3 linked regions of the Homo sapiens genome follow. The protein of the gene in region 3 purifies or fractionates together with the protein of the main gene of each other region. This does not show direct contact. Each region holds a gene or a part of one and is shown on either strand. Other genes may lie near its edges.

Evidence for each region.
Region 1: the proteins of NBR1 (region 3) and VANGL2 purify together in Homo sapiens (affinity purification with western blotting, with the first as the bait; 2 studies listed by BioGRID). This does not show direct contact.
Region 2: the proteins of NBR1 (region 3) and RO60 purify together in Homo sapiens (affinity purification with mass spectrometry; 2 studies listed by BioGRID and IntAct, with this or other methods). This does not show direct contact.

The regions. Positions count from the first base shown.
Region 1 is NC_000001.11:160,421,633-160,430,694, forward strand, and holds the end of VANGL2 (vang-like protein 2), read left to right. Parts: intron 1-2,419; coding exon 2,420-2,651; intron 2,652-3,485; coding exon 3,486-3,746; 3' UTR 3,747-7,038; downstream 7,039-9,062. UniProt on the Homo sapiens protein: Involved in the control of early morphogenesis and patterning of both axial midline structures and the development of neural plate. Plays a role in the regulation of planar cell polarity, particularly in the orientation of stereociliary bundles in the cochlea.
Region 2 is NC_000001.11:193,083,199-193,094,653, reverse strand, and holds the end of RO60 (RNA-binding protein RO60), read right to left. Parts: intron 10,076-11,455; coding exon 9,923-10,075; 3' UTR 9,666-9,922; coding exon of another isoform or gene 9,652-9,665; 3' UTR 3,435-9,651; downstream 1-3,434. UniProt on the Homo sapiens protein: RNA-binding protein that binds to misfolded non-coding RNAs, pre-5S rRNA, and several small cytoplasmic RNA molecules known as Y RNAs.
Region 3 is NC_000017.11:43,193,408-43,204,862, forward strand, and holds part of NBR1 (next to BRCA1 gene 1 protein), read left to right. Parts: coding exon 1-231; intron 232-942; coding exon 943-1,092; intron 1,093-1,556; coding exon 1,557-1,632; intron 1,633-3,073; coding exon 3,074-3,184; intron 3,185-3,534; coding exon 3,535-3,699; intron 3,700-6,759; coding exon 6,760-7,201; intron 7,202-8,278; coding exon 8,279-8,373; intron 8,374-9,247; coding exon 9,248-9,305; intron 9,306-10,273; coding exon 10,274-10,379; intron 10,380-11,455. UniProt on the Homo sapiens protein: Ubiquitin-binding autophagy adapter that participates in different processes including host defense or intracellular homeostasis.

The sequences.
Region 1 (9,062 bases), on a different chromosome or scaffold from region 3:
TGAGATCAGGCCCTAAAGGACAGTCTTCTTTTAAGGCCACTGACTTGGCACATTAATTACATCTGCAAAATGTACCAAGATTGTTGTCTAATGAGGGGATGGGAGTCTGGTAGAAGTGGAGGGTATCTTTGAATTCTGCCTGCCACAGTGGGGTAGGGACCCAATAAAGGGATGTGAGCTTTACCTGCAACAGCATGGACTCAGGCTAGACTAGCCTGCCTGCCAGTAGATCTTGAGAGGACTCACCAGATGGTGCTTTTGTTGCCTTCAAAAAATGACGTTTTATTGCCTATATTTTGGTAAATTCTTAAATGCCATCCTAGCTTCTCCCTTTCCCTATTCATATTATTAAGTGAATTTAGTCAACCCTGAAGAATCTTACTTGGTGCCTACTCTGCCGGGTTCCATCTTGGTCTGTCGGGAGTTCCCTGAGGGAGGAGCAGAGTGCCTCAGGACTTGACCACGCACCTGGCCTCCGCCCCATCTCCCACATGAACTCCAGGCTTCAAGGGCAAGAGGTAGCCCTTACCTTGTTCCTATTTGAGGCTGGCATCCCCTGTAGTAGAACAAAGATCACCAACTCCATTTCTGTGGCATTCCAACCTGTCTCTAATTGTCTTGGAAATGGCCTGAGACTTGGGAAGGAAACCAGTGATGTCCCTACCCCTTTATCTTCTGCCCTGACCAGGGTCATCCAATCTCCTGTACTGCCACCACCATTTTTGGCACATAGAGGACTCTTTCCTTTCCCCATTACCTTGCTTTTAACCAGGAGCAAACTTTTTCCTTTGTTTACCTGAGATAAAAGGATCTTTTCAAAGGGAATTTACTGAGAAATGTAGGGGAAGCAAGAGAATAAAGGAAGAAATGATAGACATACACAGATCCACACCTATATACCCAGAGTCCCATCTGAAATGACTCAGGTTCCTGGGTTCTGCATAGAAGGCCTCACTTTCTTTCTTTGTCCTGTCACTTCAGGCTGGTCCTGCTCTTAGGCCAGGGGGCTTTTATTTTGGTTTTTGGACTTGAAGTGCAGATAATTGCATTAATTGCTCTTTTCAGCTTCTAACATATTGTCATTATAGAGTTTTTCATGGTTCTTTATTCTGTTTCTTCTTTTCCTCCAGTTCCCACTTTCACTCCAGCGCCACATTTTAGGCATCCTGTTGAGTGTGTTTGACTTCCTTAAAAGCTATATGTATCCTTGTGCAAAGTTAGTGTTAGTGTAGTGATCTTTGTTGGTGTTGGTGTGTGTGTCTGTATGTATGCTTTTTTTTTTTTTTTTATTGAGATGGAGTCTTGCTCTGTCCCCCAGGCTGGAGTGCAGTGGCATGATCTCAGCTCACTGCAACCTCCGCCTCCTGGGTTCAAGTAATTTTCCTGCCTCAGCCTCCCCAGTAGCTGGGATTACAGATGCACACCAGCATGCCCAGCTAATTTTTGTATTTTTAGTAAAGATGGGGTTTTGCCATGTTGGCCAGGCTGGTCTTGAACTCCTGACCTCAGGTGATCCACCTGTCTCACCCTCCCAAAGTGCTGGGATTATAGGCATGAGCCACCACACCCGGCCATCTATATGCTTTTAATGTAAATGGATTTTTTTTTCCTGCTTCCTCCTTAACACTGTGTTTTTGAGATTCATCCAAGTTGTCTGTACATCTAGTTTGTTGCATCTTTTTGCTGCATAGTAGTTCATGGAATACTCCCAACATCCTATCCAATATTTGGTTTATAGTTACCTTCTTTCTTTTTTCCATTTTGATGGAAAAGTAATATTTTACTAACATTTTCATTTGCATCTCTCTAATTGCTAGCCAGTAACTACTTCGTATATCTTTTAGCCTTTCAGTCCTCTTGTGAATTTTCTGTTCACCTCCTTTGCCCTTTTTTCTCTAGGTTTCCTGTCTTTTTCTTCTTGATAGAAATTGTAGCAAATTCTTTGCATGTTCTAGATCTGAATCCCTTGTTGGTTTTAGATGTGTATATTTTCCCCAGCTCCATCAGATGTCAGTTAATGTTGCCCATGCTGTCATGGTTGAACAGAAATCTGTCATTTTGATGTAATCATATCTATTAATTGTTGAGCCAATGAAGTATGATTTGGGGGTCTTATTTAAGAAGGTTTTCCTTAAAGTTTGGTGGAATGCTTTGTCTTTCCTATAGCATAGTTCCTAGTTGTCTCTCTGGGTTTGACACTAGGTTTGCCCTCTGAGTCCCTGGGCTGGGCCCACTGAACTCTGTGGCTGTTTACTGTTCCCAGTGGCAGAAAGGCACTATTGCCTCTGGCTTTGTATTACTTTGGGTGAGCACAAAGGCCTGACCTCATTCAGGCTGCTGGAGTGTTGGAGCTAGGGGAGAGGGGTGGGGTGGGGGAAAGAGAGGTGGGCATCTGGCCCAGTCCCCTCCTGTCCCCTAGGCTTGTAGTGGCGGTGGAGGAGGCCTTCACTCACATTAAGCGGCTGCAGGAAGAGGAGCAGAAAAACCCCAGGGAGGTGATGGACCCCCGGGAGGCAGCCCAAGCCATCTTTGCATCCATGGCCCGTGCCATGCAGAAGTACCTTCGGACCACCAAGCAGCAGCCCTACCACACCATGGAGAGCATCCTGCAGCACCTTGAATTCTGCATCACGCATGACATGACGCCCAAGGTAGGCCTGCCCTGCTGCCAGCATCCTTCCTCCTTCCCCAGCTCCTCTTCTTTCCCACCTTCATTTTCCCTTATTCTCTCACTACTTTCCTCACTGTCCACCTCATTTCTCTCTCCTCACCACCTCCTTTTTATAATCTTCTCTCTCATTCCTATTCCACCTGCCCCATCTGTGTGGGGTGAAGTCTTTAGGTAGATGAGGAGAAGGGAGTCCTCAGGACCATTTTGGGGATGGCTGAGACTTATTTCTCATCTCTATGAGGGCTCCGGAATTACCAGATCCAAAGGCCCACTTTCACCTCCATTACCCTCTTCACCTCCACTAGCTGGTCTTGGCTTTGTGTCATTTTGAGCCATTGCCCACCTTCAACTCTATTGCCAGCTTCCTAGAATTGCTTTCCCTGAGCCACCCTTGGTGAGCAGGTAACTAAAGATGTTGCACTTTAACCTTGACACCTTTGGCTCCCTCCTGGTGCAGACCTGCTTGGCACGAATCATACAAGCTGTGTGGGAAGGAAGGAAGAATGAGGGAGGGCTTGCCCAGGTCACAGCCTGGTGCAGGGAGAAGAGCAGCAGATGGGGGTCAGGGGAGCCGAGTTCAGTCCTACCTGATGAGCCACATCCCCCTGTGCACTCCGGCTTCTTCATTTATAAAATGAGGGTCTGAAGCAGATGATCTCAGGCCCCTTCCTGCTGTAACATTCTGAGGTTCTAGTTCATATGCATAGAGTGAGCTCAGGGACGTCCTTCTTGTCTTTGGAAACTATGACCTAGGGGATGAAGGACCGTGGGTAGATGACAGAGATTCTTATGCAGCCCCTTCTTTCCACTTCAGGCCTTCTTGGAGCGATACTTGGCGGCTGGACCTACCATCCAGTACCACAAGGAACGCTGGCTGGCCAAACAGTGGACATTGGTGAGCGAGGAGCCGGTGACCAACGGCCTCAAGGATGGCATCGTTTTCCTCTTAAAACGCCAGGACTTCAGCCTGGTGGTCAGCACCAAGAAGGTCCCATTCTTCAAACTCTCCGAGGAATTTGTGGATCCCAAGTCACACAAGTTTGTCATGAGGCTGCAGTCTGAGACCTCAGTGTGACTGTGCAACAGCAGGGGGAGTGGGAAACTCTGGGGGGTCCTGAGGGGGTGGGAGGGGGCTTGGTTCTCAGGCCCAGCCACATTCCTGCCACCCTTCTTCTTCTTGCTCTTTTTTTTTTACTTGAATTAACGCACCCCCACCTTCTCTCCTCGCTTCTTCCTTATTTTACCCCATGTGAACCTGGAGAGACCATCCTGCTGTCAACAGTACCTGGGAAGGACTCCCACCTCACCAACAACTTTTGTATTACTCTAGGCCCTGCAGGAATCAGTGCCTCTCTCCCTCTTCTTTCCCTAGTCTTTTCCCAGATTACAGTCTCTCCTGAAAGGGCACAGGGCCCTGCTGATTGTACTTTCCCCTCCTGAGCCCCGACTCACAAATCCAAGTTCTTAAAACATTTCTCTTCAGTGGCCCAACAGGGTTTCTCTGGGGCACATGGACATGACTCCAGAGAGCCACAGTGCCAAACTCCTCCAGGGCAGCAACTGGCCCTCCTGTCCCTCACCCCAGCCACAACAAACCCTGGGTTCTAGGGCAGGGATACTCCTGCCACACAGCCCGAGTTAGAAATCTCCTTGCTAGGAGCATTTGCTTCCACATATATTTAGAGCAAAGAAGGATCCCATCCTTTTCCCAGAAATCTCCACCTAATGTTTTTGGTTTGTATGGTCACGTGACCATAGGCAACCACGTGGAAACCCTCTGTGACCACTTTTCCAGGGACTTAGGGGAAGGTACCTTTCTTCCAATGTGTCTTCCTAGGCAGCCCCTGAGGAGGAGGGCTGAATAGATCCCTGAGGTTTTGGAGAGACCCCCATCACTGACTCCTGCTCCCTAACCCTACCCTCACTTTCGTCCCCGCTCTTCCCAGTGAAGGATGGTATGTAGACTCCTGTACAGACATAGTGGCTTGCAGACCCTGACCCAGCCCCTGTGGTCTTAGACAAATGTTTTTATTTTTGTCACCAGCCACCCCTGTCCTGCCGCCTTCTCTCGACTCCAGAGACCTGTTGCCTCATCTCTTTTGGGGAAGAGCCGGCAGCTCCTCCTCATCCCCTGCCTTAAGTCCAGTTCTTTGCCTCAGGGGTCTCGTTTCCTTGGCCTTCCAGGGTCCCCACCCCTTTTCTCCCTGCCTGATTCTCTGAGCTCTGGGCTCCGTCTGTATTGGGTTGAGGGGCAAGGATTACTGCCTTTTGTAGGTACTTCACCCCTCACCCCATTTTAGCTTCCATAGTCTTTGCACCAAATCCAAATTCTTGATAATTTAGATCTCATTTTGAGCAAAATTTGCTGGCCCTCTAATAAATATTTTCAATATAAATCTGAGCCTTTGACTCAGACATTTTTGCCAAGGAGAGTAGAATTAGGAAGTACCCATATACATCCAGCCAGGATCCACATGGAGGACCTTTCTGATGGCTGCAATGACTAGGCCATTCCTCTGAGTAACTCACAGTGTCCTTTTGTAGGCCCTTCTTTTCCCTGAAAGACTGGTTGGTACTTACCTTGCAGAGCACATCCTGGGATAAGATCCCCAGTGTCTCCCCTGGGAGGCTCCCCCTCTGTGTAGCACCAGCCCTGGGAATGATGGAGCCTAGTGATCGGGGTTTCTCCTGCTGTCCTTTCTGCAAAAGTTCACTTGTTTACCCACCGCATGCTAGAGAGGAGCTCATTGGCCAATGCTTACCTTGTCCCCAAAGGGGTGGGTTGTGGAGCTCACTTAGGCAGGGCCTCTGGCTGGGGCCAGGGTTATGAGATAGGCCTGTATGAAATATGTCCTGTTCTGGGGGTCTGTCTCTTTTCTTCTCTTCAAAAACTTTGTGTCAGAGAGTCCCTTCTGAGTCACATAAATACCTCACTATCCTGGAAAACAGGGCCTGGATGGTGACTGGGGTCATTGCCTTTGTGGACAGGATGGAGTGTGGTGTGGTCTGAGGAGCAGGTTGGGGTGGGGGAGAGGGAAAGGATTTGGGATCTTAGTTGCTGCCCTAGGTTAGGGGCTGGGGAGTGTTTATTTTAAGATCCTGCCATGTTTTTAATCACTGTGATTTTTTTTTCATTCCCCTTTCCTAAAAAAAATTTTTTGCCTCCAACTCTCTAAGCACTAAGGGCTGTGCCTGAGAATGGTAGCATTTTGGTCTTTTGCTTCAGAACTGTGGTATCTTTGTCTTTTTTCATTATTATTATTATTATTATTATTATTATTACTATTGTTTTTTAAAATGTCAGGATGAATTGTCAGACATATGGCCATGTGTTTGTCCTCTGCTTCTCCCCTGTGGGAAGTTGTCTCCATGCTGTGAACTGCTGTGGGGTGTGCAGCTGACTCAGTCCCTCTGAGCAGTTTCCCCACTGTGTCTGTCCCATCATGCGCTGGATCTGCTCATTCTCCTGCTGTGGGGGTATGCCCACCTCTTACCCCCTTGACACCATAGGGCTGCTGTGGCTGGGCCTCACCAGCACTGTCTTTTGTGTGACTCATGGCATCCTCGTTCATCCCCACCGTGCCTAGCAGGCCTTCCTTTTCACCACCTCGGAACGCTTGCCTTTCCTCCCTCCACAACAGGACGCTGTGCCTCAGTCCTTCACCTACCTCGCCACTCTGCCACTGTCCCCATTGGTCCTTTCTCCTAAACTGGTCTTTGTGCTCTCTTTGTTTTTTCTTATTTCCCTCTTGTCTCTCATTTTTTCTTCCCATTCCCCTCCCATTTCAGCCCTTAACTTTTCTCTTTCCCATCTCCACTCAGTATTCCAATGGCAAACCCTGATGATGTAACACCTGCGATGAGACATCGGACTCTCCGGAACTTTCTCATCTGACACGTCTTTTTCCCAGGGTTCGTACTTCTCCTCCATTGGTCCCAGGCTAACTCCCCTGTTCCTCTGTGGTGTCTGTCAGTCCGTCTGTCTTCTCTTTCCTCTGCCCTTCCCACAGGGCAGTATCTGCTGATGGATTCAGTCCTGGTGTGTGATTGTTGTGATTTGTTCTTCCGTGCGCAAAAGGAAGAGGGCTTTTTGAGTCCCTTCCAAGTGAGATTGTAAATGTAGAATTTTCCACTGTTGGATCTAGATTTTTTTTCCTTTTTTTTGGGGGGGTGGGGTTACAGAGCTGAGACCTTGTGCATGCATGTAGAAAATTGTAAAATGTAAATTTTTTTTAATATATAAAAAGCTTGTTTCTACAGTTTGCAGTGGATCTAAACATTACGGCAATTTTAGGATTTTTTTCTTAAACATAGGAACTAAAACTGTACAAATTTTTTTTATATAAAATAAAGACATTTGACTTTTGTGGGGGCATTCTGTTGCTTTTCTTTCTTTACAGGAATGGGAGCAAATGAGGGCCAGGGAATAATGAATATATTCCTTGTTAGGGAGGGAATGGGCAGGAGGGGGCAGTGTGAGCTCATCATTGCTCTGCAGGCCTTCAGGGTGTGTTGGAGAGAAATGGGAAAATGAAAAAGGAAATTGCTTATTCTGAATCCTGATTCTAAAGAGAGAGAAACAACAATGTGAGGGCTTAACCACTTCCTGGTGTAGTTGTCAGGATAGAGAAAGAAAGATTACTTCCTGGGTCCACCCTCCTGAGCAAGCTTGTGTCTGTATGGCCTCTAGGGCAGGAGTGGGTTTCTAAAACGTATTTCTAAAACATAAAGTGCCATAGGAATTTCAGGGGATAGTTGAGATTTCAGTCAGTGGTGACAGCCCATCACAATTCATTGAGACAAGTTTCTGTAGTATATATATTAGTTCTAAATATGTAGAGAGTTCAGTGCTCTGTTGTCACTGTAATGCATGTAATCAGGTACTAAAATCACCCTCAAGAGATTGGGTCCCTTCTCCCAGTCTTACCTGGGCCTGACCTCTGTGACTTTGGGCAAGATGCTTAGCATGTAAACAGCCTGCTAAGGTTAAAAACAAGCATTTCTGTATGGAGGTGGCCTATTCACTAGATTTCCTCCTCCTCTCCCCTGCCTCATACTCTGCCAGGCTCTGGGGATGCAAAGGCAAGAGAGGCTCCATCCTGGAGGATGACCCAGTTTACAGGGGTGACAGGCTGGGTGACCCTAGTGCAAGGCTTCATGGCGTGTTCTCAGGCAGAGTGTAGACAAACCCTGGCTGGATTCCAAGGAGCTCGGGGAGTTTCCTTCAAGAAATCTAGGAAGTTTGTTTAAGACTCAAGATGGGGGAACACACTCACCTTGAGATTACATTTTGTTCATCTAAGTATTCCTAGAATTGAAACCAGTTCCTCGCATATAGTTGGTCCTCAATAAAAAATTGTTGCATGAATAATGAACTGAACAACTAACAATACAATAGGGGCTCATGAAAGGGATCATATACTTGCTTCTCCCTTTAAAATTGCACTCCAGTCTTTCTCATGTGAAAACAAACAAAAATACTTCCCTTGAAATTGCATCCCCATTCTCACGGCTCTGTTCTTTCTGTAACTAGGTTTGTAGAATAGTTTCACTTGCTGTTTCCAGTTCATTTCAGAGTCAACTTGTGACTTACATTGTGACCAAATTTCTACCTTAGCATGCCTCTGAAATTATTCTTGTTCTCAACAGCCAAGTATAGTAAACACCTTTTAAGTTTATTCTTTATTTAGTGCCTATGATGTTCCCAGCCTGATACTAAAGTACTTTCTCTGGTAAAGATACTGGATATGGTCCTGCCCTCACTGAGCTAACCTTGGTGGACCCTTGAGAAGGCTAGTTAACCTCAGGGACCTCCTCTTGTAATGCTGGCCCCAGGAATTCATAGATTTAAAGCCAGACCTCAATATTTGATTGATAAGATCATATTTTCTCTAGAGGTTTGCTGCAAGCAAAAGTGATAATCCTGACCATTTGTCAGGCAGCAAAGGGTATTTGTAACTTTTGTTTGAAAGGATGTGTTTTCCACAGAAGTTCTTCACATAGCACTGAAGTTAGGGACCCAGCTTGGTGGATTGTCAGGGTCATGCCTGGGACTTCATGACATTATATGTGATTATATGTGATTACATATGCTGCCCATGTGTGATTTTTGTTTTTTAGCCTTTGCCTTTGAAATACAGCCGAGAGGGGGAACTGGGGGCTGGGGCTCTGGCTGAGGAGACATAAAGATCTTTAGACCAAGGTCTCAGTGATTTGTTATTAGTTTTTTATTTTTTAATTTTAATTTTTTTGTTACTATTTTTTTTTGTTTGTTTGGGATAGTTTAATGGCTTCTACAGACTGAAAGTCAGCTTGCTTAAGGTAACCCTTGGCTTTTTTGTTACTTTAAGCATATGATAGTAATGCTCTTCCAATTGCCAGGAAGGCTGGG
Region 2 (11,455 bases), on a different chromosome or scaffold from region 3:
ACAAAGAGTAGAATGTCTTTAGTTCTTTATTTTGCATTATGTCATAAGAAAGTTCTTGCTATGTTGTAAAATCGTTGTTAGATTCAGGCTTTTGGGGATTCTGAAAACACATTTTGTTAGAGTTGAAGTCTATTACCTGAGAAAGGTAAAATTGTGTCATAATTGTTCATCATACTAGGTATTAAGGGTAGAGACAAGTTACTTCAAGGTATAGAAACACTGACCAGTACTCGACTGTGAAAAACATCTTTACCTTTAGCATTTTTTTTTTGAAACAGTCTCGCTCCGTTGCTCAGACTGGGGGGCAATGGCGCAATCTCAGCTCACTGCAACTTCCACTTCCTGGGTACAAGCGATTCTCAATCCTCAGCCTCCTGAGAGTAGCTGGGACTACAGGCGAGCACCACCACACTTCGCTAATTTTTTGTATTTTTAGTACAGCCAGGATTTCGCCACGTTGGCCAGGCTGGTCTCAAACTCCTGAGCTCAGGCGATCCGCCTGCCTTGGCCTCCCAAAGTGCTAGGATTACAGGCATGAGCCACTGCACCTGGCCTGTGAAGAAACATCTTTTATCAATGCTTCCTAGACTGGTAGGACATAGGGTGAGAGGCGAGTGGTGGTTCGTTCTTGATTATGTTCAGATCTTGAAAGAATTCAACATTAGGGAGAGAAGCCTTATCAAAAGCCTCAAAAACTCTACTGAAGGTAATATGATACCTGATTCTCACTATGGCTTTATTTAAAATAGAAGAAATAAACCCTTCTAATATCTGCATCTTAGTCTTCTGAATTAAACTCATTGACTAATAAAAGATTTTTACTTTGGAGGGTTTAGCACTGCATCAAAAAGGAAGCAGATCTCTCCTATTTGTTAAACGCTAAGGAATGAAAGAAAATAACAATAAATCTGACCTCTTTTTGTCATATGGCACATTAAATATCTTTGAAAAAAACCCCAAAACAATAATAACAAAAGCTTGCCGCTCTAAAACGTTTAAAATATCGGACACAATAATAAATTTTTAAAAATGCAAGGCTAAGCAGGTTTTAAAAAGTATAGGGACTCTCCAAGAGGAAAACAAAACCAGGAGCAGAATCCAAGGATATAGGGAAGCACTGAAGCCAGCAGCTCCCTTACTGACAGTGCCAATCGTGGAATGCCAACAGCTTTAGTTTTAACTGTATGCAAGGGGCTGGTTACAAAGCTGGGGGTTAAGGGAGAAAGATTTAGATAGGAGACCACAGCATACCACCACTAAATCTTCAGTTAAAAAAATTCGTAATATACTTTCAGAGCATAGCTGATGATTTGCCAAGACAGACAAGCGTTCAGATCACTAAAGGTGTAACCATTAGGTAGGTGACTTAACCTCCCAGAACTTCAAGTTTCTTATAAAATGTAGGTAATAGTACTTTCCTTTAGGATTTACTTTTTGAGGAATGGAGATAATACATGTAAATCTTTCAGAGTGGTTTTTAATAGACAATACATAATGGCTATCATTAATCACAATGGTTCAGGTATGTGTGTTTTCTTGTGGACCCATCAGGGTTTTCCAAGATTCCTGCCTGTACCCAGCCAAGAATTTAGGGGGCAGGGGAAGCCTCTGGGGTTTCGTGTTGTCTTGGATATTGATTTCCATTTCTTCTCCCTTTCCATACCTTACAGCTGGATAAAAGTAAGATAATGGTGACTAAGAAAAACTTGTAATTTTTTTCCTCAGTCCTTATTTTTACATTTTTTATTTACATTTTTTTTTTTTTTTTTGAGACAGGGTCTCCCTCTGTAGCCCAGGATGGAGAACAGTGGCTCTATCATGGCTCACTGCAGCCTCAAACTCCTGGGCTGAAGTGATCCTCCTACCGTAGCCTTCTGAATAGCTAGGGCTACAGGCACATGCCACCATGCTCAACTAATTCTTTTTAGTTTTTTGTAAATATGGGGGTCTTACTGTGTTGCCCAGCAAGATCCCCATAGTTACAACTTTTTAGTTTTGAACTCCTAGGCTCAAGCAGTCCTCCTCCTTTGGCCTCCTGAAGTGCTATGATTACAGGTGTAAGCCACAATGCCCGGCCCTTTATTTTAAGATCTGAAATACGAGCTGTTTACTGGAGTTCATTAATATAAAAAACTAGGCCATTTTTCACTTTATCATTAGATAATCAATTTACATTTTAATTGCCAAAATATCTGTAATTGAAAAGCTGTTGAAGAAAAAAAGGGATCTTCTGTACCTGGATTTTACTGTTTACTGATAAAAAATTACCATTTGAACAACATCTTTTAAAGTCAGGTTTTCTTCATAAGGTTTAATATTGTTAAAATTTATTAAATCTAGTATGTATAATTTGTGATCCTTCTTGTACAAGTGTTGAAATGAGTGCTGTAAAATCAACCAAATGTTTTGAAGTTTTGGTGAATATATTCTGATGTAACTTGCTTTCAGTTACCCACAGTTCAGATCTTAGAACTTTTCAGAAAATTTTTATGGGAATTGAGAGAAAAATGTCTGCAAATTGGCACTGAAACAGTGTTTTTATTTGCATAGTTGACTTTTTGTGTTTGGATGATAACTTTTGCCAAAGGCAATTTTGAGTAGATCTTTTCACAAAAGAATCCTATTTTAAAACTTTAAATAATTTGTTTTCATTAAATCTAATCATTTTGTTATAATTGAATTCCATGGGTAAAGAATCTTTAACTTCATATACTTTTAATACTTACATAAAACTAGATACATTAAAAGGTCAATATTAATTATCAAAACTTAAATTTTACCTTGTTCAAATACAAGATTACTAAAGGCTTTAGATTTTTTAAGGCATATTATAACCTTAACATTCGTATTTCTTGAAAGAGATAGACAGACACTTGTTTAATGTGCATAGAGTTTATTTGGTACATCTATCAATTTCTACAATAACTGACCAAAAACAGTTCACACAGTGTCCACCTGCACTCCATGTCTAAAATGATTTATTTAGTAGGGTATTTTGCAAGGCTAGAAAGGAGAGAAAGGATTTCACAGTATCAGTGAAAACTGTTTTATCATGAAACAAATGTAATACATTAATATATTCATTCATTCTCTATTAGAAAACAGCAAAATTACATTGTTAGTTGTATTATTTACAGTGAAAACTTGGAAGACTTGACAAAGCATCAGTTAGTTTATCAACAGACCTAGGAAGCTCCCTGTCCCCTCCTTTCAGGGTCCTTTCCTTGGAAATGAAATAAACTTAAATCAGATTTTACATAACTTTAAGCACCAGCTTGACAATTTAAAGTTTTATTTCAGTTTTATAAAATACTCCTGCTTTGAAAGGCAAAGTGAATGTAAAAATGTGAATGTAATTAAACAAGTCACTGGCCTGGAAACTTTTTATTGCAATAGTCTTTATGTTTTACTACTATATTCACTTCTTGGAATGAATTTGCTTGTAGGTTTGAAACAAAATATTTGCCTTTTGTCTTGAAAAATTCCCTTAAAAAATTAATTATTTTTGGAACTGTACAACTACATTTTCATTCGATGTTAAATATGCAACTTGGTCCTTGGATATCATGTTACAAAGTCCAACCTGTTGGATAACTTGTTATAGAAAACAATAAAAAACCTTAAACTATCATAAAATATTACTGATGTTAACAGTCATGTATGTATAACACATCACTGTATCTAGATTTTCCTGTTATTGGATGTTTAAATTACCAATGTACAATCAGGTTTTAAAATGTAATACTTAAATTTCCATTCACTATGTAAAATTAAAAGCTCTAAAAGACCCTTTGAGTTCTGTATTTCAGAAACATTAGAACACTATTAAGGCATTATTTAAACAGACCCCAAGGAAAGTAACTAGTATGCCTGAATTACAGAGCAAGTAGTATTTTAAGGCAGTCAAAAGGTTCATTTTTTCACTTTAAGGCTCTTGAATACTTAAGTTTATTCTATGTAGACATTATTCTGTGTAATTTAAATATTCATCAAATGGTCAGTTATTGAAATCAAAGCCTTTATATAAAGCAAATGGACAGTTTAGAACTAGATTATAATACCCCACTCCCCACTGGTTTTTATAAAAGATGATTCTTATATCTCATCCCTTTGGAAAATTTCATTATCAGAAGCTGGCAATAAAAGGAAAAACATATAACTGAAATACATTACAGAAGTTATGCCCAGTCACGCCATACCAGATATAGAGAGTCCATATTCAGAGTAACAGTGCAACAAAAACACTTTGAGTACTATTCATTAATTGTATATTTTAAATCTAATTTGGCTACGTATGGATTATATATAGTTTACGTTACAAATAAAGCCAAGTTTCAATATGTTTGTTGATATAATATTCCCTCAATTATATCTGGTAATGATATTTAAAACAGCAGGGTTTTAATTTCATTTACTGTCTTTATCCACATATCCATATCCACATCGAAGTGAAACCAGCAGACATATAGCTAATTTACTATTTCCTTTGTTCAAGCATATATTCTGATATCTAAAAGTGCATAAATTTAAACAACTTAAGATGAAAAGTTGGCCAGGTGCGGTGGCTCACGCCTGTAATCCTAGCACTTTGGAAGGCCGAGGCGGACAGATCACGAGGTCACGAGATCGAGGCCAGCCTGACCAACATGGTGAAACCCCGTCTCTACTAAAAATACAAAAATTAGGTGGGCGTGGTGGCGCGTGCCTGTAATCCCAGCTACTTGGGAGGCTGAGGCAGGAGAATTGCTTGAACCTGGGAAATGGAGGTTGCAGTGAGCTGAGATCGCGCCACCGCACTCCAGCCTGGTGACGGAGTGAGACTCTGTCTCAAAAAAAAAAAAAAAAAGAAAAGTTAAATATCATTTATGTTCATAAAATTAATGTGGTGCATGGCAGGGCTAAATAAAACAGAAGCAAAGGGAAAAATCTTTTTAGGATGAGAAGGTTAGCTTTTGTATATTTTTGTTGTATATATAAATTCATTCTCACTGAAAATAATCATCGTAATTTCCACAATAGAATTTTCTAAGATGTTCTCCACTAGTTTTTTCTTTCCACTATTTTCCAATATAACTTGGTATTTTCAGGGTTTAAGGAATTGTGCCATTTATTATAATTTTATTCAAACAGTATGCTTAACTACATTATTAGTTTTATACATGAAAAATACTACCTTAGAATTAAATTTTAACTTCATAATTTTCAAAAAAGCAAATTAAAAAATGCACCAATTAAAAAAAAGCCAAATGTGAGTAAGTTATCTACAAGACTTTTTATGCCACAAGCAACGTATCTCTATATATGCTCAGTGAAATATTTAGTAAACCAAAGATTTTGACAATGGTCTTTATAATTATGGAAAAAAAGCATTGAGACACCTGCTATTTTCTGAAAGAGTAATCAGTTAATTATTTTTCTAAGAGTGCTTATATAGTAAGCACTTATCTTTTCAACATAGCTAGATAACATAATTACAAAGGCTGAATAACTGATCTTAAAGGCCACAGAATTTCTGCAAACATCTAATATAAAAGATATACAATATAATTTGATTTGGGGAGGAGTGTATCAATCTACTTATTGTTCCAAGAAGCCTGCCTATTACTAAGTTGAAAAAGAAAATATGATCTTATACTTGTATGAAACAAAAAGCAATCTGCAAAAGGTTCATCCCAAACCTCTATGTGGGTGACTTTCCTGTCATTCATTTTATTATCCAGATAGAGAAGGACTAGAAAAAGAAACAACAGAAATGTAAGAAAGGAATTTTAAAAGAAAAAAAAGAGGTAGAAAAGTAATCTTCCAACAAATAAGAGATGAGGAAACAGACATCAAGGAAACACTAAATAAAATCCAAACAGTAAATACAACTAATTTCATTGATTAACCTGTCATTTTTTTTTACAAATTCTTTCTTGTGCATGTTTACACTGATGCCATATGACATTTCTCCAGAGGGGATAGTGCCTTAACAATCACCCCAAACCTGCAGTATATAAGACTAGAATTTTTCATTTTTGATTACCTACTGTAATAGCATCAGTTACCAAGAAATTTGTTATTTGTGGCTACAACAGGTCAAGTTAAAGTAAGTCCAACAAAACATTACAATGATTTAGGCTTTAGTTATTTAGGTGTAGCTTTACTATGCTTTTAAAGGTGTTTCTCACTTAATTGTGAGACCTTCAGATTTATTCAAGAATCCTACCTTATCTTTCCAAAATAATTTCACATTGTTTCTGTAAAATCTAGAAAATAAGAAAAAAAAAATCCCTGATGAAAATAGTACTTTACTATTTGTAGATTTACTGGTTACTTTAAAAGATTAAGAGAATGTTTGCTGGCTGGGTGCAGTGGCTCATGCCTCTAATTCCAGCACTTCGGGAGGCCAAGGCAGGAAGATCCCTTGAGCCCAGGAGTTTGACACCAGCCTGGGCAACACAGTGAGACGTTGTCTCTTAAAAAAAAAAAAAAAAAAAAAAAAAAAAAAAGCAGGCGTGGTAGTGCAGTGCACACCAGTGTTCCTGGCTACTTGGGAAGATCACTTGAACTTGGGAGGTCAAGGCTGCAGTGAGCTGTGATCATGCCACTCCAGCCTGGGTGACAGAGGGATAGCCTGTCTCAAAAAAAAAAGTTTGTTAACAGCATTTCCTCAGAGTATAAGCTTGTTTTTCTAGGTCTGTCCAAGAAGATCTTGGAGTATATTTTTTCTCCCTCTTCAGTAGAGAATAGTGACTTTTTGGGTAATACTTTAGCTGTGAAAATTTTTCTTCTAAATTTTTCTACTCTGAACAGGAATGTTTTAAAACACTGTTAGGCCTATTGAGTGAGCTATTTTTCTAAAACATTTTATCTTTTGAAATACGTATCTTATTAACAAGAATGTTTTTAACCAAAAAAAAAAAGAATTCTAACTTGTATTGCAAGCCCTCTTCCCAGTTTCAATTTTTATACAAATATTAAATCACTGATTCTTCTATGATCCAAGCACAGATATGTTACTTTTTAAGGATAAAAATAATCAAATCACTTAGGTTAAACTGGTTGTCTACAGTCACACAGTAAGTTAGATAAAGCAAAGGAGGTGTCAAAGGGTAACACTAAATTCCATTCACTAGCATCTTGCCTCACTAACACTCTCATAAGATAGATTACTAAATAATATAAGTATTAATAAATGGAATTTCCAAGAACTTTCAACTAATAAAGGGTGGGATTATAAGATTAGTTTTTGTTTTACTAATTACAACTATATCCTGGAACTATTTACATACTACCTAGGAAATAAAGTTTGTTTATTCTTGCAGGATTGTTTTTAAAAGCAGTATTTTCCCAAATATTAATTTAACAGTAATCCTAAAAGTAACTCAGGAAATAAAAAACTTATCACTTCAGTACATTTTATTCATAATGAGGTAAAGTTTTTGTTTTTTCTCTATATATGTAGATATATATAGCAACACAGGTTAATTGTGCTTGAGGATTCCTATGAATTACAAGATTATACATGTTCCCATTCTATTTTTCTACTCCTAAAGCAATCGTATATACATTATTTCCTAATAACTCAATAAGGTAAAAGTCTTAAATAATTTTATTTTATCCTCTACTCTTCTGAGACCATGTATTCCCATGTTGTGGGGAAATAAATTCTGGCACAGGAATGAAGAGACCAAGATTTCTAGGTTATAGTACTTCAAAATCACACTCTGTCTTGGACCTCAGCTCTCTAACAAAAATTTAAAAAATTAGCTTTTAGGTTTCTAAGGTTTCTTCCAGCTCAAATATGCCATGATTTGAAAAGTTACCTTCTGTGGTAGCTTCTCCTACTTATCCTTTCTTTCTTAAATGTTACCCTAGTCCATTTAATTAGACCTACCTAAATACTTCAGAAAGGTCATATCCATCCAATCTTGTATCCTTGATGGATTTAATATTAACTTATAGATATATTTGTCTAAAAGTATTATGGAAATAGTACACAACTGAAGGTAATGCACTTTTGTACTATATTCTATTTAACATTTCTATTAGGAATAAAATGATCATGTTATAATTTTTAAGATCTTGGGTTTACTTAAACAATTCAATAACTATTACGTAATTCTATTAGTTTCTTTAAACTTTAAATTCAATCTGAACGTAATATTTTAATGTGTCAAAAGTAGCTAATATATTCAGTTCAATGCTTGACAGGGTTAAAAACGTGAACAACATCAGAAGCAATGCATGTCTGGAGTGGGGGTGAGGGTGCTATGAGCTTTGCTGAACAAAAATATCTCAGGTAAATCACACTTAAAAACTGATACCAGTTGCCTTGAAGGAATGGGTACATATCAAAACCAGCATTAATATGTCAAATAAATTTGAAAGGAATATTTTCTTATTCCCAGAGCCCAAATTTCACATAAAACAGAAGAAAATATGTACAGAAATCCTCAGACTACTAAAGTCCCCCTTTCCCAAAAAACATAAACCCTCTAACCCCCAAGCACCTAAAAGGCTATAATTTACATTAACTACAGTTTGACTTTTCACATAACAGCGAGAAGGACCTTACAAATCCTCAGTAAATCTTCAATTAATATTTAGAGAACAACAGATACGCAAACAGGTTTTATGTGTAAGCTACCTTAGACGGCCATAATAAAATTATGAGCAAAGATAATGGCATTTCAACAGATTGCTTTAATGTTAAACCTCACAATGAAGGATACTTGCTCAATAAAATAATGCACTTTAGTGTAATGAAAAGTTTAATACATACAAATAATACTGAAAAAAATTCCTAGTGACTGGCTAGCTGGTAATATGCTACTCAAAAATTGCCTTTCAAACCTAAAGGACCTAGATTGCTTTATTATTTGTTTACACTATCAAAGAAGAATATTTTGCCACAAAATGAATAATGGACAAAGAGGCCATTGACATGTATACTTTTAAAAATATTAACTAAAAAAATAGTTAAAAGTAAAAAATTTTATTTTAAAAGTAAGGAAAAAGCTAAACTGGTTATAGTTGAGATTTTAATTGTTATACTTTGTGAATGAGGGGGAGTTAAGCGCTTGAAACATTTTATATTATTTACACTTAAGAGTATGAAAAACAGTGTGAGACTACATCTGGCTATGTTATTATAATTCAGAGGAAATCATTATCAAGTCACACCCCTTGTAGCAATAAAATATAACAAAGCAAAAAAAAAAAAGCAAACCAAATAGAATCCCTCAGCCAACACAAACTTAGTCTATTCTTAGGGGTTGCCATGATGTTTCTGATTAATGGTAACATATTCCACAAGTGCAAATAAAACATCAGAAATAAAATATCTTTTTCACTGAATAAGAAAGCTGTTATTTGTGTGATCTTAGTAAAACTCTGAAAGGAATTTGTAAAACTCATTCATAATTTAATCAAATGCCTTAGTTTTTTTTTTTACCCCCTTGGTATAAAAGTTTACAGATGAGTTTCATATTTCATCACAGTTATATGGTCTAGTGCATTTCAGAGTATTTGGACATTATCAAAGCTGTCCTTTCCCAATGAAAACATTTAAGAAAACGTTAAGCACTTCTCAAGTAACATGATGTGGAATTACACTTTTTGCTCTTACCTCTTTTAGGTACACACGTATTATTCAACAAAGCAAAACTATTTTACAGTGTCTGTTAACAAAAAGTTCTCTATTAGATAGAGGAAACTACAGTATCCTGAAGCTATTTCCCCAAGAGCTAGTTTAGTAGATAGACCTTTGGGCCCATCTTATTTTTCCTTCTTTTTTTTTTTTCAGTAAGGTAACTTTCCATTATGCACATACTATACCATCATCATTCATTGGGTGGAGATTAGCTGGGAAGTAGCTGTATATTTTTAGTGAGATCACTGATGGCAATGGATCTCTGGATCGTGCTGCTGCTTATGGTTAAATCATATCTAATGTGAAATTTCGAATTACATCCAGAGCTCCAGTATCAAAGCCGCACATATCCAACATGCCTCTATCATCTGGGTCTGCAATGGTGAAACCATTTGATGTCATTCCACAAACAATCAATTTAGCTGGAATATCCATTTTCTGTAGAAAAAGACCAAAATACATATTAAAAACATAAATGTAAGGAAATGCAAAATACCTCCAAAATTAAAACACTTTAACATTTCTCTACCAGAGCTTTTTAAATACAAAGTCATTTTTTTGCGGGGGTCAATCTTTTAAGGCTAGAATATGGGAGTTTTAGAAGAAGGGACAATAAAATTGTATAAGAATCTGCCTGAAATTTCTACTTCTCTCTTCAATTACTTTACTTGTTCTATGGGCTGCAGTGTACATTATTGAGCAGCCTAGGCACTTTGTACTTATGAAACCTGTCAGGTTATTAAGGGTGCCAGATATTTTTATCAACATATCAAATGCTGGGGCAGTGTGTATGAGTATATATAAGGACATATCTCTGGGATGATCAACTTTTGGCTGATGACTTTGATATGTGCGATATACACATGTTCCACGTAAGAACTTGTCCTCTACAGCTAAATGTAAGATTAAAATAATTGAATTTTTGAGAAAAACCAACAATCACTGAATGTATACACATGAGAAACTACAATGCACTGTTTAAATAATACATCTACCGTAACTGTTAAAACAACTCTAAGAGGTAAGTAACTTACTATGATGTAGATCAGTTAAATAATTTGCTCAGGTCCACACAGAGTAAGAGAAAGACTCGGGACTCACAACCAAACAGTCTTTACTCTACATTCTATCCTGGTTGGGCAGTGCCTCATGGCTGTAATCTCAGTGCTTTGGGAGGCCAGAATTTCAAGTTACAGTAAGCTATGATAGCACCATTGCACTCCAGTGATGGAGACCCCATTTCTTAAAAAAACAAAACAAAACAAAACAAAACTATTCCCTTACCTGCAGCTTTCAAACTTAAGCCTGCATCAGAAATCCTCTGGAGGGCTTGTTAAAACACAGTCCCAACGTCAGAGTTTCTGATTCAGCAGGTCTCTGACGGGCCTCAGGAATTTGCATTTCTAATACGGTCGCAGGTGAGGCTAAGACTGCTGGTAGGGAAACCACACTTTGAGAACCACTACTCTTCATCAACAAGTTCTATTTCTACTTCTAGTCACACTAGCCATATTTTAAGTGCTCAAAAGTCCCATGTGATTAGTGGCAACCCACATTGGAGAGTGAAGATTTATGTCATTTCAGAAAGCTCAACTGGAGGATACTGATTAGAACACAGATATGTCCATAAAACATAGAGCATAGATTATAGCTTTAATTTTATGTAATCCTTTTGCAAAACTCACTAATACTTTCAATTTTTCAAGGAGCACACTGAATTATTAAAAAAAACTTACAGCTAAGGTAAAACAAATATTCTGATTATTACCAAAAATACTGTTTGCAAAGGATATTCTTAGTAATGTTTAGCAATGGAAA
Region 3 (11,455 bases):
CCCTGCCTCAAGGCCGGCCATGTGGGAGTTGTATCTGTGGAGTTCATTGCCCCAGCCTTGGAGGGAACGTATACTTCCCATTGGCGTCTTTCTCACAAAGGCCAGCAATTTGGGCCTCGGGTCTGGTGCAGTATCATAGTAGATCCTTTCCCCTCCGAAGAGAGCCCTGATAACATTGAAAAGGGCATGATCAGCTCAAGCAAAACTGATGATCTCACCTGCCAGCAAGAGGTGAGCATTGACTGACAGGCTTTGGCCTAGTATCCAAATCTTAGTTAGAGAGGAGATGGCTAAAACTAAAAGAACCCACTCATAGCTGGTTGTTTTCCAGAAACCTTGAAAGGTTAGCATCTCCCCCCGCCCCAACACATCTCTATGCTGATATTTGGCCTCTTCCTTAGGGTGTTTGTTTTAGCGTCTTTAGGGTCTTGCTGCATACTGAATACTTTTGTACCTCTTTGTGATGTTGCATGGTCAGCCTGTTGGCTGCACAAGGGAAAAAGGGACTCCTGGCCTGGGCTGGCCTGTGGAACTGCTGAACTGATAGCTTTACTCCTTAACATCCATCTCTCCTGAAATACCCTGTGTATGTTCCCTAAATACTAATGAAGTCTTGCCCTGGTTGCTACTTAGTGAACAGTTTTTTAATGCAATTTCTCTGTATTAGTGGGGCAGAGTGTTTACTGCTTAAAGTTATCCAATGTTAATTTTCTGGTTTTGACTATTATAGTTAATATAAGTTATCGTCATTAGGGGAAGCTGGGGAATGTGAATTCTCTCTGCTGTTTTTACAACTTTTTCTATAACTGTAAAAATATATCAAAAACATTGTTTTTTAAAATATGGAGGTACAGCAGCGTTTTTATTTTTGGGGGCATTGTCAGCCTGCCTCTTCAGTTCTGTTGAAGGCCTAAAATTTGTCTCAATGGTTTGTCTCTATAGGAAACTTTTCTTCTGGCTAAAGAAGAAAGACAGCTTGGTGAAGTGACTGAGCAGACAGAAGGGACAGCAGCCTGCATCCCACAGAAGGCAAAAAATGTTGCCAGTGAGAGGGAGCTCTACATCCCATCTGTGGATCTTCTGACTGCCCAGGTGGAAGATTCAGCACTTTGAAGGGCAAGGGACAGAGGGAGAGAGCACAGGAGAGAAGGTGGTAGAGCCATAGGCAGTAATCAGGAAATCAGAGATATGCCCACTTTGATCTAGTCAGGTATATTTAATGGGAAGGAGATCACCCATGGAAGCAAGTTTGTAAACTAGATGTTTCCTCTTTGAATTGGGAACTCAATCCTGTACTTCCCCACAAACTCCCTTTAGTTGCCTCTTCACCTTGGCCTAGCTAATTCTCCTTCATACCTGCTGCATTTTCTCTTTCCTGCTATTGGGTTATTTCAACATCTAATTCCCATTTAACTCTTCTTGTTTTCACTTGTCTGGGGACAGGCATGAATTTGAACAGAGTTGAATACGAAATGATGTGGAAATGGTCTACAGGTCCCATCAAGACATGGCTCCAGCATGCACTCCAAACAGCCTAACATTGTCTTTTTTTATAGGACCTGCTGTCCTTTGAGCTGTTGGATATAAACATTGTTCAAGAGTTGGAGAGAGTGCCCCACAACACCCCTGTGGGTAAGAATGTCACTCATTTCATCTTGTTCGTCTTACTAATAGGCACAAAAGTACCACAGCCTAGACACTGGTAGTGTTTTATTCTGAGGAAATGGCAAGGATTTCTCCCACAGTAGGATAGTAAAGCAGCAATCATGGATCCGTTTTTCTTCTTTCCTGTCCTTTGTCAAAAGTAACAACATGCTGGGCATGGTGGCTCGTGTCTATAATCCCAGCTCTTTGGGAGGCCAAGGCAGGAGGATCACTTGAGGCCAGGGTTTGAGACCAGCCTGGGCAACATGGTGAAACCCCCATCTCTACAAAAATTACTTTTAAAAATTAGCTGGGTGTGGCCAGGCACGGTGGCTCACGCCTGTAATCCCAGCACTTTGGGAGGCTGAGACGGGCAGATCACCTGAGGTCGGGAGTTTGAGACCAGCCTGACCAACATGGAGAAACCCCTTCTCTACTAAAAATACAAAATTAGCTGGGCATGGTGGCACATGCCTGTAATCCGAACTACTCGGGAGGCTGAGGCGGGAGAATTGCTTGAACCCAGAAGGCGGAGGTTGTGGTGAGCTGAGATTGCACCATTGCACTCCAGCCAGGACAACAAGAGCAAAACTCCGTCTCAAAAAAAAAAAAAAAAAAAATTAGCTTGGCATGGTGGCCTGCACCTGTGGTCCCAGCTACCAGGGAGACTGAAGTGGGAGAATCTCCTGATCCCAGGAGGCAGAGGCTGCAGTGAGCCAGGATTGTGCCATTGCTCTCCAGCCTGGATGACAGAGTGAAACCCAATCTCAAAAAACAAACAAAAAAAAGAGGCTGGGCACGGTAGCTCACGCCTGTAATCCCAGCACTTTGGGAGGCCAAGGCTGGTGGATCACAAGGTCAGAAGTTCAAGACCAGCCTGGCCAAGATGGTGAAACCCCATCTCTACTAAAAATACAAAAATTAGCCAGGCATGGTGGCAGGTGCCTGTAATCCCAGCTACTCGGGAGGCTGAGGCAGAGAGTTGCTTGAACCTGGGAGGCGGAGGTTGCAGTGAGCCGAGATTGTGCCACTGCATTCTAGCCTGGGTGACAGAGCAAGACTGCATCTCAAAAAAAAAAAAAAAAGCAATAAAACAAGTTCGTGCAAGGCTTTTCCACTATAAAGGAATCCTCTTCTCTTTTTTCCCTCTAGATACTTGTGTCCTTTTGTTCCTTTATGTTCATGGTTTTGTGTCTTGGCCACAGCTTTCCAGGCTAAATAACTGTGATTCTTCCTGCATTGATTGATCTGAGATATTTTGCTTACTTATTGGTCTGGAGAAATTTTTTGTAACAGACCTCAAAGCATATCTTGGTTTATTTTAGCCCTGCGGGAGGCAAGAAGCCTACAAACTGCTACTTCTGGACACTGACTGTTGATGATATGATGCTTTCTCTTGATTGATGGTTCTCCTGTCTTCATTCTCCAGATGTGACTCCCTGCATGTCTCCTCTGCCACATGACAGTCCTTTAATAGAGAAGCCAGGCTTGGGGCAGATAGAGGAAGAGAATGAAGGGGCAGGATTTAAAGCACTTCCTGGTAAGGGATTAAACATTTGTAAAGTATTTGCATCCTCCCTTTCCATATCATACCCTATTTTACAGCTATCCCCTACTGACCCTACCTTAGCATGTAAATGGGCTTGCTTTCTGTAGCATCTCATGTTTTGAAGTCTCCTCACCTTCACATGGCACAGATAGCAGCTATTCCTTGGTTTAGTTTTAGCATGGGTAATGACTGGTGAATGTTCTTCAGCACTTTAAACACCAAGTGCAGACAAAGTTTAGATAGCAGCTATTCCTTGGTTTAGTTTTAGCATGGGTAATGACTGGTGAATGTTCCTCAGCACTTTAAACACCCAGTGCAGATAAGGTTCGTGTGTCTTTCAGATTCTATGGTGTCAGTAAAGAGGAAGGCTGAGAACATTGCTTCTGTGGAGGAAGCAGAAGAAGACCTGAGTGGGACCCAGTTTGTGTGTGAGACAGTAATCCGATCCCTTACCTTGGATGCTGCCCCAGACCACAACCCTCCTTGCAGACAGAAGTCCTTGCAGAGTGAGTGTCCTTGCATTTCCCCTACCTAGCAGGGTGGCACCTGAATTGTGACTGCCAGACTTGACTAGTTAGATGTGCTCTTCTTCACTGAGACTGAAGGGAGAGTGATCTTAGTTAGAAGTTCTGATCTTGGCGGGGCGTGGTGGCTCAAGCCTGTAATCCCAGCACTTTGGGAGGCCAAGGCAGGCGGATCACAAGGTCAGGAGATCAAGTCCATCCTGGCTAACATGGTGAAATCCCATCTCTACTAAAAATACAAAAAATTAGCCTGGCGACGTGGCGGGTGCCTGTAGTCCCAGCTACTCGGGAGGCTGAGGCAGGAGAATGGCATGAACCCGGGAGGCGGAGCTTGCAGTGAGCCAAGATTGCGCCACTGCACTCTAGCCTGGGCGACAAAGCGAGACTCCATCTCAAAAAAAAAAAAAGAAATTCTGATCTTGTTTGTGTCTTTAGACTCTACGTATGCTACCTGACTGTTCTAATTAGAGCATCAGGAGTAAAGAAGCCATCATACTCATTTCTCCATCTTCTCAGGGGCAGAATTACAGCTGCATTCCACAGTGGAATAGCAGCCAGTTGTGCTGCCTGGATTCTGCAGTAAGGAATCTTCCTGTAATTTGACAGAGCTCCTTAGCAGAGACCCCTATGGGTAGCTGAGTTGTCTGCTTTCTCCAAGGGCAGCAGTCCCAGAAACAGTGGATAGAAGCAGGAGTACCAACAAAGTTTCTCAAGGTTAAATTCTGCTGTAATAAATACCTTTATAGGCCGGGCACAGTGGCTCACCCTTGTAATCCTAGCACTTTATGAGGCTGAGGCGGGTGGATCACCTGAGGTTGGGAGTTCGAGACCAGCCTGACCGACATGGAGAAACCCCATCTCTACTAAAAATACTAAAAATTAGCCAGGTGTGGTGGCTACATGCCAAGGATTACATGCCTGTAATCCCAGGTACTTGGGAGGCTGAGGCAGGAGAATCACTTTAACCCGGGAGGCGAAGGCTGTGGTTAGCCGAGATGGCGCCATTGCACTCCAGCCTGGCAACAAGAGTGAAACTCCGTCTCAAAAAAAAAAAAAGGAATAAATACCTTTATAACAGAAACTTCTAGGTATCAGATAGATAGAACCAATAGCATATATTTTAAGAAGTATCCAAAAATTCAAATATACTATGTCAAAATAATATTGGAGAATCTCTTTATTATAATCAAATTTGACCTATATCTTTAAATATTATTTATCTTACTTTTGTTTAAAGTATACATGTAAGGCCAGGCGCAGTGGCTCACGCCTGTAATCCCAGCACTTTGTGAGGCCGAGGCGGACAGATCACAAGCTCAGGAGTTTGAGACCAGCCTGACCAACATGGAGAAACCCCATTTCTACTAAAAATACAAAAATTAGCTGGGCGTGGTAGCGTGTGCCTGTGATCCAGCTACTCAAGACGCTGAGGCAGGAGAACTGCTTGAACCCGGGAAGCCAAGGTTGCAGTGAGCTGAGATCGCACCACTGCACTCCAGCCTGGGTGACAGAGCGAGACTCCGTCTAAAAAAAAAAAATAATAAAGTGTACATGTGGCCAGGTGCGGTGGCTCATACCTGTAATCCCAGCACGTTGGGAGGCCGAGGTGGGCGGATCATGAGGTCAGGAGATGAAGACTATCCTGGCTAACACGGTGAAACCCCATCTCTACTAAAAATACAAAAAATAAGCTGGGTGTGGTGGCGGGCGCACCTGTAATCCCAGCTACTCGGGAGGCTGAGGCAGGAGAATGGCGTGAACCTGGGAGGTGCAGCTTGCAGTGAGCTGAGATCATGCTACTGCACTTCAGCCTGGGCAACAGAGTGAGACTCCATCTCAAATCAATCAGTCATGTATATCTTTATATTTTTTTCCACATGTGTGTACAAATACATAACAAAAAGGTCTGGAAAGACAGTACCAAAATGTTCACAGCTGTTATTCTGATAGGATTTATGGGTAATTTTTTTTTTTTTTTTGAGATAAGGTCTCACTCGCCCAGGCTAAAGTGCGAGTAGCAAGTTTATGGCTCATTGCAGCCACAACATCCTGGGGTCCCCCTACCTCTGTTTCCCAAGCAACTGGGACCACAGCCACATGCTACCACAATGAGCTAAATTTTTTTTTTTTTGTAGAGATGGGATTTCGCCACGTTGCCCAGGCTGGTCCCAAACTTCTGAGCTCAAGCAGTCTGCCTGCCTTGGCCTCCCAACGTGCTGGGATTTTAGGCGTAAGCCACCACACCTGGCCTGGGTAGCTTTTTTTTTTTTTGGGACACAGTCTCTGTCACCCAGGCTGGAGTGCAGCAGCGCGGTCTCGGCTGACTGCAACCTCCGCCTTCCCAGGTTCACACCATTCTCCTGCCTCAGCCTCCCGAGTAGCTGGCACTACAGGCGCCCGCCACCATGCCCGGGTAATTTTTTTGTATTTTTAGTAGAGATGGGGTTTCACCGTGTTAGCCAGGATGGCCTTGATATCCTGACCTCATGATCTGCCCACGTTGGCCTCCCAAAGTGCTGGGATTACAAGCGTGAGCCACCGTGCCTGGCCCTGGGTAGCTTTTTTCTATCCTTTTTTACCCTCTCAAACATGATTGGCCAGTTTTCTCCCATGACTGCATCATCTTTGTAAAGAAGAGGAGGAGATAGACATATAATCCTGCAATACTCATCTCCTAACTTTTTCTCTTTTTATAGCACTGTTAGTGTATCAGTTTTGGTTTAAACTCTACTCAGTATATTAACCATCACATAAAAAGGAAAAAAGGGATGGAGCTGCCTCCTTTTATGATTCATAGAGCTTCTTGGAAACCTGAGTGTTTCTGCCTACCTTGTTTCTGTGAGCTTTGATTCTATTTTGTTTTGCATAGTCTTCAAACTTAGAATATGGTCATAGTTCCAGAACCAGCCCTTCCCTTTAGTTCTTCCCTCTCCTCTGGCTTTCATAATTCTAGCTTATGATCCACAAGGCTTTACCAAGTAAGGATAGTACTTAGGCCTGCTTTTAGCTTCCACCTTAAAATTGGTTGCTTTCATCCTTTAGTGACATTTGCCTTGCCTGAAGGACCACTTGGAAATGAGAAGGAGGAGATTATCCATATCGCTGAGGAAGAAGCTGTCATGGAGGAGGAGGAGGATGAGGAGGATGAGGAGGAGGAGGATGAGCTCAAAGATGAAGTTCAAAGTCAGTCCTCTGCTTCCTCAGAGGATTACATCATCATCCTGCCTGAGTGCTTTGATACCAGCCGCCCCCTGGGGGATTCTATGTACAGCTCTGCGCTCTCACAGCCAGGCCTGGAGCGAGGTGCTGAAGGCAAGCCTGGGGTTGAGGCTGGGCAGGAACCAGCTGAGGCTGGGGAAAGACTCCCTGGAGGGGAGAACCAGCCACAGGAGCACAGCATAAGTGACATCCTCACGACCTCACAGACTCTGGAAACAGTGCCCCTAATCCCAGAGGTAGTGGAGCTTCCACCGTCACTGCCCAGGTACCACTCACAGCCCCCTCAGCTGGGGTGTTCTTCAGAGGTGAAATAAAGAGAGGAATCGACCTGATCTCAAAACCTGTTTTTTCCTCAGTATGGAAAGAGACTATTTTCCATAGCAAAGTCTGAATTTAGATGAATAAAAGTTGTATTTCCCAGTATTTGTGGATTCTGGATTTAAAGAAATATTTGTTTTAGTTGGCCTTAAATTATCTGAGTATAGTCTGTCTGCTTATATTTTGATTATTGAGAGCTGGTTGTGTTTTTTTTTTTTTTTTTTTGAGACAGGGTCTCAGTCTGTTGCCCAGGCTGGAGTGCAGTGGCACAATCTTGGCTCACTGCCACCTCTGCCTCTGAGGCTCAAGCAATCTTCCCACCTCAGCCCCCTGAGTAGCTGGGACTATAGGCATGGGCCACCACACCTAGCTAATTTTTGTATTTATTGTAGAAGCGGGGTTTTGCCACGTTGTCCAGGCTGGTCTTGAACTCCTGGCCTTAAGCGATCCAACTGCCTGGGTCTCCCAAAATGCTGGAATTACAGGTGTGAGCCACTATGCCTGGCTGAGAGCCAGTTTTTAAACACAAACATCCCTGGACCTTCCCTCCTTGTTTTATTGACTCTTCAGTAAAGGCAGCAAAAACTCAACCCAAACAGTCATAATTAGGAAGTTAAATCCATTATGGGAAAAAACACTATAAAACCAAACTAATTATTTTTAATTCTCTGGTGAATCTATCTGAATCATTCTTGTCTCCTAATAGTAGGGAAAATGCTGGAGCCTTGACTATAATGTAAACCATTCTCCCCAAAAGCTAGACATTTCCGTTTATTGACACCACTTGATATAGGTGGGGACATGACCAGACTGAAGCCAACATTTCTAGCTTGCCTGTGGCTAAAGAGGAAAATGGGGTAGAATGTAGCCCTTATGATGGAACCCTAAATCCAGACATGTGATCTGGATCAGAAATGTGAAGCCTCTGTAGAGAATTTGGCACTGCTGTGCTGTGTTTACTATTTCTCCACTGTTGCCATAAGTGCCTTTTCAATTTACTTTCCATATTGTGTCTTTCTGAAAGGAGCTCTCCTTGTGTACATCATCATGGTTCCCCAGGAGTGGATTTACCAGTTACCATACCAGAAGTTTCTTCAGTCCCTGATCAGATCAGAGGAGGTAATGATCAGCCTAAGCTTTTTCTCTTTTTCTCTGCTCCTGTCTAATGGAAACCAGGTATAAATAGCCTCTCTCTCTTCGTGATTCTTGGTGGTTTTTTGAAACTTGCCCTTCACAGGCCAGGCGTGGTGGCTCACACCTGTAATCCCAACACTTTGGGAGGCCAAGGCAGGCGGATCATAGGGTCAGGAGTTCGAGACCAGCCTGGCCAACATAGTGAAACCCTGTCTCTACTAAAAAATAGCAAAAATTAACCAGGCATGGTGGCGGGCACCTGTAATCCCAGCTACTTGGGAGGCTGAGGCAGGAGAATCACATGAACCTGGGAGGCGGAGGTTGGAGTGAGCCGAGATCGCACCATTGCTCTCCAGCCCGGGCAACAGTGCGAGACTCCGTCTGAAAAAAAAAAAAAAAAAACTTGCCCTTCACTCTCTCCATGCTCCTCCTGCATACTCTAATTTCTATTCTCTGGCTGAATATATTGTTAGACCTCATAGAGGTAGTGGAAAGAACACAGGCTTTGGAGCCAAACAATCTAGGTTCCAGCTCCATCTCCCCCTTTCCTGACTAGCAGTTCAGCAGGTTTCTAATGGCTGTGAGTCTGTTTTCTTACTACAAAATATATCAGTGTGTTAGGATTATAGAGTTGATTTTTCTGATTCAATAAACAATCATCTTGCATTGCATTTCTGGACAGTTTCTCCTTATCACTTAAACTACCCTTAAAACTTCCCAAATACTTTAAAAAAAAAAAAAAAAGACTTCAAACACTGTGATCAGATTGCCACCTGCCTCAATAATAGCCTTGCTGTGAGTTAGGAAACAGTAGGTGCTTATGGATGCTGCATCTAACCAACAGCTCTTTTGCTTTTAGAGCCCAGAGGCTCATCAGGACTTGTAAACAGCAGACAGAAGAGCTATGACCACTCAAGGTAACAACCTTGTGCAGTCTCTTTTTTCAGAAGCAGGTGGATATTCTTGTATTCCTTCTGCTTAAAAGAGCCTCTCACAGTATGTACCCATCTTCAGAGAGCAGAGAAGGGGAGCCTTTGTTCCGTCTTATTCTTGTTTCTTCTAAAGGCTTTGAGCAACACTGAACAAACGGCTAAAGCTGATGTTTAAGAGTGTTCTGTTTGGGAGGCCGAGGCGGGTGGATCATGAGGTCAGGAGTTCAAGATCAGCCTGGCCAACATAGCGAAACCCCATGTCTACTAAAAATACAAAAATTAGCCAGGCATGGTGGCGGGCACCTGTAATCCCAGCTACTCAGGAGGCTGAGGTGGGAGAATTGCTTGAACCCAGGAGGCGGAGGTTGCAGTGAGCTGAGATTGCACCATTGCACTCCAGCCTGGCTGACAAGTGAAACAACATCAAAAAAAAAAAAGAGTGTTTTATGTTTCAGACAAGGAAATAGTGTCCACAAATTACCTCACTCTTAGCACTGGGGAAAAGGTAGAAAGGTTAAGCCCAGTATACATTTAAATAATTTTTTCTTGGACATACCTGGTTCTCTGCTTCCACTCATATTAGGCCAGTGTCCAGAAAATCACATTTCCTTTGCAAGGTGTTTTCTCTGAGAGAATAATTGAGCAGACAAACTGTTGATATCCTTGTGTGTCCTCGATCACATTAATTTTCAGCTAGGAGTGAGAGCCATCATGGTTACCAGAGTGGTGTGTTTCCTGCAGTGCCCCTATCTTGCTTGCACCAGTAGAGCTGGGCCCTCCATCAAACCATGATCTGTAGCTATAAAGCTGATAATGAAAGCAATTGTGTTCTCTTTTTCCATCTAATTTTTTCTCTTAAGGAAATCTTATTCCAAGGATTAGAGCCCAGATTATCTTGTAAAAAGGTAATGATTTGTGTTTGTTTGGGGAGATAATTTGGTTTTCCTCTGCAGGCACCATCATGGGAGCAGCATTGCTGGAGGACTGGTGAAGGGGGCTTTGTCTGTTGCTGCCTCTGCATACAAGGCCCTGTTTGCTGGGCCACCAGTCACTGCACAGGTCAGTGTGTGTGTTTTATTTTCCTGAATCTCAACTCCATGTCACCAGTGAAAGTGATGGCATCTGTCTGGGTTGAAGAGTAACATGGCATTGTGGAAAGGGCATAGGCTTTAGATTTAGTCTTTAGTTAACACACAACACAACTCTGCCACTTTTTTTTTTTTTTTTTGAGACGAAGTCTCGCTCTGTTGCCCAGGCTGGGGTGCAGTGGCGCGATCTCGGCTCACTGCAAGCTCCACCTCCTGGGTTCACACCATTCTCCTGACTCAGCCTCCCGAGTAGCTGGGACTACAGGCGCCTGCCACTACACCCGGCTAATTTTTTGTATTTTTTAGTAGAGACGATGTTTCACCGTGTTAGCCAGGATGGTCTCAATCTCGTGACTTCATGATCTTCCCGCTTCAGCCTCCCAAAGTGCTGGGATTACAGGTGTGAGCCACCGCACCTGGCCAACTCTGCCACTTTCTAACTATATGACTTTAGCCAAGTTACTTAAGGGAAGAAAAGAGAAGAATGTATTATTGATGATCTATTAATATTTTCTATAGAGAGAAGCTATTCCAGGTGTTGGCACTATGGCATGAATAAAACACCAGTTCTTGGCCGGGTATGGTGGCTCTTACCTGTAATCCTAGTACTTTGGGAGGCCAAGGTGGGAGGATTGCTTGAGCCCAGGAGTTTGAGACCAGCCTGGGCAACATAGTGAGACCCCCATCTCTACAAAAAAATTTAAAAATTAGATAAGTATGGCCGGTACAGTGGCTCACACCTGTAATCCCAGCACTTTGGGAGGCCGAGGCAGGCCGGATCACAAGGTCAGGAGATCGAGACCATCCTGGCCAACATGGTGAAACCCTGTCTCTACTAAAAATACAAAAATTAGCTGGGCGTGGTGGCAGGCACCTGTAGTCCCAGCTACTCGGGAGGCTGAGGCAGGAGAATTGCTTGATCCAGGGAGTCAGAGCTTGCAGTGAGCCGAGATGGCACCACAGCACTCCAGCCTGGCGACAGAACAAGACTCCATCTTAAAAAAAAAAAAAAAAAAGTATGATGGCATGCACCTACAGTCCCAGTTA